Linked DNA regions of Homo sapiens. The protein of the gene in region 1 interacts with the protein of each later gene in a pairwise test. Each region holds a gene or a part of one and is shown on either strand. Other genes may lie near its edges.

Region 1 (4,349 bases):
ATGCATAGTTTCACTGTCTGTCTTCTCTACAGCAGCTGCTTCTTGGCACAATCCTGAACTGGGCAGAACGTCCTTCCCAAACTCGCGGAAGACAAATGGCTCCTGTGACACCCTGAGCTTACGTTTCTTTACAAACGATGCTTCTCTGACACTCTTTCTGTAGAATTTCTCTCCAATATGCTGCTTCTGGTGCTGATGAAGGTATGCAGTGTCATCCAAGTTTTTTCCACATGCTCCACTCCTGTTCAGCTTCTGCTTGTGATGAGTTTCCTGGTGGTCAGCAAAGTGAAAAACATCCTCCAAGATGAGGCCACACATTTCACAGGGGTGAGCCTTCTTAGGAGAAACACCTGCCCTAGGAGTCCTGCTCTGAGACTCTCTTTGTACAGAAATTCTCTGCTTACAAGGTGCCTCCTCATCTTTTGATCCACACCAACAACCTGAGAGCAAGAAAATGCTGGTCAAGTGCAAAGTACCTCTGACGGGAAGGCACAGCCCACCCACAAGTACGTCTCACAAATTGAGGAATTAATCTATAGAAATATTTGCAGGAACACAATGTTGGCTTCAAGTTGAAGATGGGGCTGCTGGCCGGGCGCAGTGGCTCACGCCTGTAATCCCAGCACTTTGGGAGGCTGAGGCGGGTGGATCACCTGAGGTCAGAAGTTCGAGACCAGCGTGACCAACATGGTGAAAACCCATCTCTACTAAAAATACAAAAATTAGCTGGATGTGGTGGTGAGCGCCTGTAATCCCAGCCACTCGGGAGGCTGAGGCAGGAGAATCATTTGAACCCGGGAGGTGGAGGTTTGCATTGAGCCATGATCGCACCACTGCACTGCAGCCTGGATAACAGAGCGAGACTCCATCTCAAAATAATAATAATAATAATAAAAAGAAGAATGAGCTGCCTAGCATTACTGGGCTATAAAGGTCACAGAATCCAGGAGGCCTCATGATGTAAAGAGCACAAGCATACAGGCAACACAGGGAGTAGAGGCAGGGTCCACAGCTCCTTCCTCTAAACACAAGTTGTGTACGGGACCTTATCTCCTAATGACATGTGAGTGCTATGTAGAAGCATATGGACTGGGCGCGGTGGCTCATGCCTGTAATCCCAGCACTTTGCAAGGGTGAGGCAAGTGGATAACCTGAGTTCAGTAGTTGGAGACGAGCCTGGCTAACACGGTGAAACCCTGTGTCTACTAAAAAAAGAAAAAATTAGCTAGGTGTGGTGGTGCAGGCCTGTAATCCCAGCTACTTGGGCGGCTGAGGCAGGAAAATCACTTCAACCTGGGAAGCAGAGGTTGCAATGAGCCAAGATTGTGCCATTGCACTCCAGCTTGGGCAACAAGAGCGAAACTCCATCTCAAAAAATATAAATATAGAAGCATATGTCAAGACCAAGAAAACATGAGTACAACACAGCAGAGGGTGGTCATGGATGGTTTAACATAGGGCATACACTTCCTAATATGTAATCGATACACCAATATCAGAGACAAGTGCAGATGAAAGCACAAGAAAAATGGGTGAGATGTGAGTATTAGTGCTGGGGTGGATATCACAGTAGAAGTGAAAAGGTACAGAACTAACACGTGTGAAACTCTCAACAATGGGGAGAAAAAGACAAATAGTGTGTGCCTACTCATATTGCCACAAAAACACTTGGCAAATATAAATGGTTTCTGGTATGATTTGGATAAACCCCTGAAGTCATGCCCTCCCCCAGCATGGCACTCCTGAGGGACAGGCTCCCTTTGAGCCTATCGTGATGAGCCTGAATTGAACCACATCTTGTCAAACATGGAGGTCTCTCCATCTCACACCCAGTACATAGGACCCGACGATGTAACTATGAAGGGAGAGACAGCAGAGATGAACAGCCAACACTAGCTCAGGACAACTAAGCACCTGACAGCCCACAGGAGAGTAAGGTAAGTATTACAAAAGAATTCCTAAGCAGGGTCTTGCAAGAAGAGTCTATGGTCTATGGTCTATGTAGGTAGTGACAATGTCAATGAAGGCAATTCTTGGCACAGGGAGGCACAAAGCATTGTCAGATAGAGGAAGGAAGTGTTAATAGAACCTGGGCACACAAGAGCTACCGATTTGGACAGTCACCTGACAGCCAGAGAGCAGGCAAAGTGGATACACTTAGGTGCCTATTAGACTCCTGACTCTGACTCCTTCCCTGGGAGCCTGGAGCAAAGCAGGTGTTGGAGGTGCTTAAGGAAAGGAAAAGGCAATACACACAACTTACATAGAGAAGTGTAGAAGGAACCTGTGTCCAGGCTCCTTAAGTGAGAAAGACAGTCCTGTCAATGAAAAACAGGGGAACAGTAACACTAGCTCAGGTCACAAAGGTGAGCGTGAGCAACTTACCCAGCGAGGATATGAGAGCCAGGTTCTCTAGCATCACATCACGGTACAAGCACCTCTGAGCCTCACTAAGAAGACACCACTCCTCCTGGGAAAAGTTCACAGCCACATCTTCAAAGGTCACAGTGCCCTGCTATGATAGTGACAGATGAAACCACAAACAGCCCCTCTGCTGAGGTACCACAACCCACCTCTCCCACACACCCACACTTGCCCATCCTCCTCCCAAGGTCCCCAACATAGTGTTGAAACTATGTCCACTAGTGCCTTTGTCTCTTCATGGGCCCACTGGTCAATTGCCATCAGCAATAAGCAGTAAGTGGACAAATAGGTATCCATGCTGAGGTCCTGACATAAAAAGGTCCATCCCCTTCTGAATAGCGATATCCAAGCTCATGTAAAGCCCAGGGCAGCTGCCTGAGCCCATTGGACAAACTCCCTCTCTAAATATACATCATTCTTTATACTGCAAAGACACATCCCCATGGCCACCCCTACCTGAGTTTTCCCTACCATCAGCCTCTCTCTGGCATCCCCACAAATAGAACTTTGTTTTTTGGGGTTTTTTTTGAGACATAGTCTAGCTCTGTCACCCAGGCTGGAGTGCAGTGGCATGATCTTGGCTCTTTGCAGCCTCCGCCTCCTGGGTTCAAGTGATTCTCGTGCCTCAGCCTCCCAAGTAGCCGGGATTACAGCCACGCACCACTATACCCGGCTAATTTTTGTATTTTTTTTTTTGGTAGAGAGGGGGTTTCACCATGTTGGCCAGGCTGGTCTTGAGCTCCTGGTCTCAAGTGATCCATCCGCCTTGGCCTCCAAAAGTGAGATTACAGGGGTGGGTCACTGCACCCAGCCCCCACAAATAAAATTATTTCACAAGATGAAGAGGGTATAACGGCCCATGATTCCCTTGGGAATATGCAATGGTTTGTTTCCATAACTCTGCTGGTAGGGATGGAATTGAAACCCACCACAAAATATAACAACCTGGAACCCTGCCTTATCACCTTGATAAAACGGGCTGTTAGGCTAGGATACATTATTCAAGAGAGCAGAGTGGGAATGAGATTTGTACTCACACCTTTTAAGGTTGTCCCACTTTCACAAGATGTCAAAGTGACACATCATATTGGGCCTTCAATTCTGGCCTTATACCAAAATGTGGATAAGCATCCAGACTATGCTTGACAAATACAAATAGGATCCAATATTAACACAGAATTTCCATGGTTTACAATAGCAGTGGTAATCCCAAATCATCCTGTGAACGTCTCCCGGAATGACTCCATAGCCACACAGAACCACATATGGCTTCAGATATCCATGGACCTATTTCACTTTTGTGCTGCACCAGCTGAGACCTCAGCTGTAGCAACCCTCCTCTGTCCATCTAATGCTGTTTAAAGCCCAGCCCCTGGATTTGTGAACCAAACCACATCTACTATCACAGATGAGCATATTTTTCACTGCCCACATGCACCAAGCTGAATGAAACTCTCCAGGCACTCCCAAAGTCATCTCAAAACGTTTATGAATCCAGACAGTGATAAATAGTTACAACTTGGCACCAACTCAGGCAGAAGTGTCATCTTCCTTACTCCTATGCTTCTGCATGCATCTATCTCATCTATTCTCTCCTCGGATGTCTATGTCCCCTTCCAAACTCTACTGTCTGATACATCCTGCCATGATGTTCACTCACACCCTCTCAGGTGTTTAGGAAGCCCAATAACATCACTCAGGGACGTAAGTAAGAGATCCACTCCTCAGCCTGTAGTCACACCTTCCTGGCCCCTGAAAAGATTTACCACCAAAATCTGAAGCATGTCCTCCTAAATGGACCCATAACTAACTTACTGAAGTTCACCCATTAGCTTTCAAATATTGGATGTCTCCAGTATCAACACCCTCCCAGATACCCCATCCTGTATGTCTAGTTATCCATTTAATGCCACCATTTATTGGTC
Region 2 (3,500 bases), on another chromosome or scaffold:
TCTCGTGCCTCAGCCTCAGAGTAGCTGGGATTACAAGCATATGTCACCATGCCTGGCTAATTTTTGTATTTTTTGTACTGATGGGGTTTCACCATGTCGGCCAGGCTGGTCTCAACCTCTTGAGCTCAAGCAATCTGCCTGCCTCAGCCTCCCAAAGTGCTGGGATTACAGGCATGAGCCACCACGCCTGGTTCCTAAGGGAACATTTTTTGAACATAATGAATGATTTACATCTTAAACCCATTTCATTTTCAGACCTCCACAAAAGAATCCCAACTGCCCACCAGTGACAAAAATTTGGCATTACCTGTTGCAGGGAAAAAACAAGACAGTAGGAAGACGATCGACCATAAATTCCCAAGGAAGGTCATTCTGAGACACGTCAATCCTGGTAAAGGGAAAGAACAGAAATGGCAGATGATCAGCCCAAGAAACACCAACTTGAAAGAACCTTCTCAGATAACTTCAAGAACCTGGTGCATTTTTTACACCCCACATTGGGCTAGTCCCTTCTCGATGAATGTACTACCAGGTGTGAGCTGGGCGCTGATACTTCCAAGACATACAACATTCTACTACGTGGACGCTTTCCACTGAGTGGCAATGTGATGTCCTGAAAGTAAAAATGAACTTGCAGAAAATGCCGCACTGACACCTGAGGAGTCATTCACTCCTCACCTGACAGGATCTAGCCAAGTATTTTAATCCCTGAATAGCTCTGGGAAAAGAAAGGAAATCATTGAGCAAAATACATCAAGCCCCTCTGAAGATGGAAAATTATACCCTCTTTATGTTGTAAATCTGGATAGAGACCAAAAACAGCCTATTTTCTTAGCAGATTTGACATTAATTTTCTAATACAGAAAATGACATCTGTACTAACTCACCCAGCCTGTGCTCAATCACTGTGGGAGCTAACCGCAACTGCTCTAGAGGCCTGCCCCGGGCAGCTGGCACAGAGCTGGGCACACAGCTGGGCGCCCACACTCGGGCTAAGCAGACATGGAGCCACAACAGCATCCTTTATGGAAGGGGCTGCATCCTCCTTGCGGAGGGGCTATTCAGCTACTATTCATAAACAGTGCACACAAAAGATGAACATGTTTTCAATCTTTACCTTGACAGAAGTTTTTAGAAAGCATAACTGGGGGGAGTGAGGGTGCGGTAAGTGTCATGTATGTGTCCAAAAGGATGAAATTTGCTTTTCAAAAAATGGCACAACCAGGCTGAGCACAGGGGCTCACGCCTGTAAATCCAACACTTTGGGAGGCCGAGGTGGGTGGACTGTTTGAGCCCAGGAGTTCGAGACTAGCCTGGGCAACATGGGGAAACCCTGTCTCTACAAAAAATTGGCCGGGTATTCTGGCACATGCCTGTAGTCCCAGCTACTTGGGAAGGTGGGAGAATCACCTGAACCTGGGAGGTTGGGGCTGCAGTGAGCTGTGATTGCACCACTGCATTCCAGCCTGGGCAACAGAGTGAGACCCTGTCTCAAAAAAACAACAACGCCGGGCGTGGTGGCTCACGTCTGTAATCCCAGCACTTTAGGAGGCCGAGGCAGGCAGATCACGAGGTCAGGTGATCGAGACCATCCTGGCTAACGCGGTGAAACGCCACCCGTCTCTACTAAAAATACAAAAAATTAGCTGGGCATAATGGCGGGCGCCTGTAGTCCCAGCTACTCGGGAGGCTGAGGCAGGAGAATGGCGTGAACCCGGGAGGCGGAGCTTATAGTGAGCTGAGATTGCACCTCTGCACTCCAGCCTGGGCAACAGAGCAAGACTCCATCTCAAAAAAAAAAACAAAAACAAAAAACAACAACAGCAACAAAAGGCATAACCAAATGAAAACCATTTACCAAAAGTTTACTAACAAAACAGCACTCCTGCCTCACCTGTGCCAGCCTACCTAAAACATTAGTGTTCCTTTCTAAACAAGTGGGAGTGAACACTATATTCCATAATTAAATGCTTTTTCTCACTTGATTCTTACTTCAAAGAAAGCAAACTATAAAATTAAAACATTGTAAAAATCCACTCAGAATTCCATTGGGCTAAATAAGGCCCCCCTTTCTTATGCAGGCTGCAGGCTTGGTCTATATGCTTACTTTTTTTTTTCTGAGACACAGTCTTGCTCTGTCGCCCAGGCTGGAATGCAGTGGTGCAATCTCAGCTCCCTGTAACCTCCGGCTGCTGGATTCAAGTGATTCTCCTGCCTCAGCCTCCTGAGTAGTTGGGACTACAGGCACGTGCCGCCACACTTGGCTAATTTTTTATTTTTAGTAGAGACAGGTTTTCACTATGTTGGCCAGGCTGGTCTCGAACTCCTGGCCTCAGGTGATCCGCCCACCTCGGCCTCCCAACATGCTGGGATTACAGGCATGAGCCACTGCACCTCGCCTATATCCTTACATATTTTTAAGAAGAGTTGTCATATATTTCATACTCTGTTCTTTTCCATTAACTGTATGAAAAGCACTGTTGAAGGATAAAAATTCCATTAAATGCCCAGCCATAATTTACTTAAACATTCATCTCCTGGTGGATGTAAACAATGCTATAATGATGAGCTCATGCTTCTTCGGAATTCCTATTCCATTACTTCTCCAAAGTAAAATTAACTGGGTCAAAAATGTGTTAACTGTTTTTGTTGATTTCTTGTAAATGTTGCCAAAATGCTTTCCAAAAGAGTTATGGCAATGTACTCATTCCATTAGATACATCTGACTGCAGTTTCCATTTTATTTTATCAACACAAGATTCTGTCACTTAAAACCACTGATTACTTTAATATGTTAAATGATACTTTGTTACTGTTTTAATTTACATTTATTAGGTTATAATTTCCCCACTTGTTTATTTACTCTCTCCTCTTAAAAGAAAAACCTGCTCACATCCTTTGTTCAGAATGGAATCGGTCTCAGCCATCTTCTAAACCATTTTAATTTCCGGGGAGGCTGGAGTATGAATGCCTGATTTAATCCTGGCCCCTCATTTGCAGCTTGAAACTCTGGGCAACTTGTCGAATCTTTCTATGTCTCAGTTTCCTCCTCAACACAAATAGCACTTTCTTTTTTTAACTAGAGTGCCTTCACTAAGCGTCGCAAGGACTCAGTCAGGTAATATGTATATCAAAAACTCTCCCAACATAGTAACTCCTCAGATTTGATTCTAATTATTACTTACAGTGCATATAACAGGTGACACAGAGACACTGGAAAATATATTAATGGTCCCCCTTTTTGTCTGCTTTCCCTGTTTTCACTGCACGTATTTCTAGTGGAATCTGTCCATTTTTCTCTCTTTATTTTTCCAACTGCTTCCACTTTGGAAAGTTTCCATCTCCCAGAGGAATCAGCAAATCCTATTTTTTGTTTTGATTTTTTTATATTTAACTCTTATCTATCTGTAGGGTTTTGGGGGAGGTGGGGGGTTAAATGTGAACAGTTTTCCTCACCCAAAACTGCTTACTACCCCATCTAAAGACTCTGTATTTGAGCC

What was found. The genes of interacting proteins can lie anywhere in the genome.
Region 2: the proteins of ZNF417 (region 1) and TXNDC11 interact in binary tests that used the Homo sapiens proteins (3 or more experiments, as listed by UniProt).

The regions. Positions count from the first base shown.
Region 1 is NC_000019.10:57,909,675-57,914,023, forward strand, and holds part of ZNF417 (zinc finger protein 417), read right to left. Parts: intron 2,516-4,349; coding exon 2,386-2,515; intron 441-2,385; coding exon 1-440. UniProt on the Homo sapiens protein: May be involved in transcriptional regulation.
Region 2 is NC_000016.10:11,683,858-11,687,357, forward strand, and holds part of TXNDC11 (thioredoxin domain-containing protein 11), read right to left. Parts: intron 389-3,500; coding exon 308-388; intron 1-307. UniProt on the Homo sapiens protein: May act as a redox regulator involved in DUOX proteins folding. The interaction with DUOX1 and DUOX2 suggest that it belongs to a multiprotein complex constituting the thyroid H(2)O(2) generating system.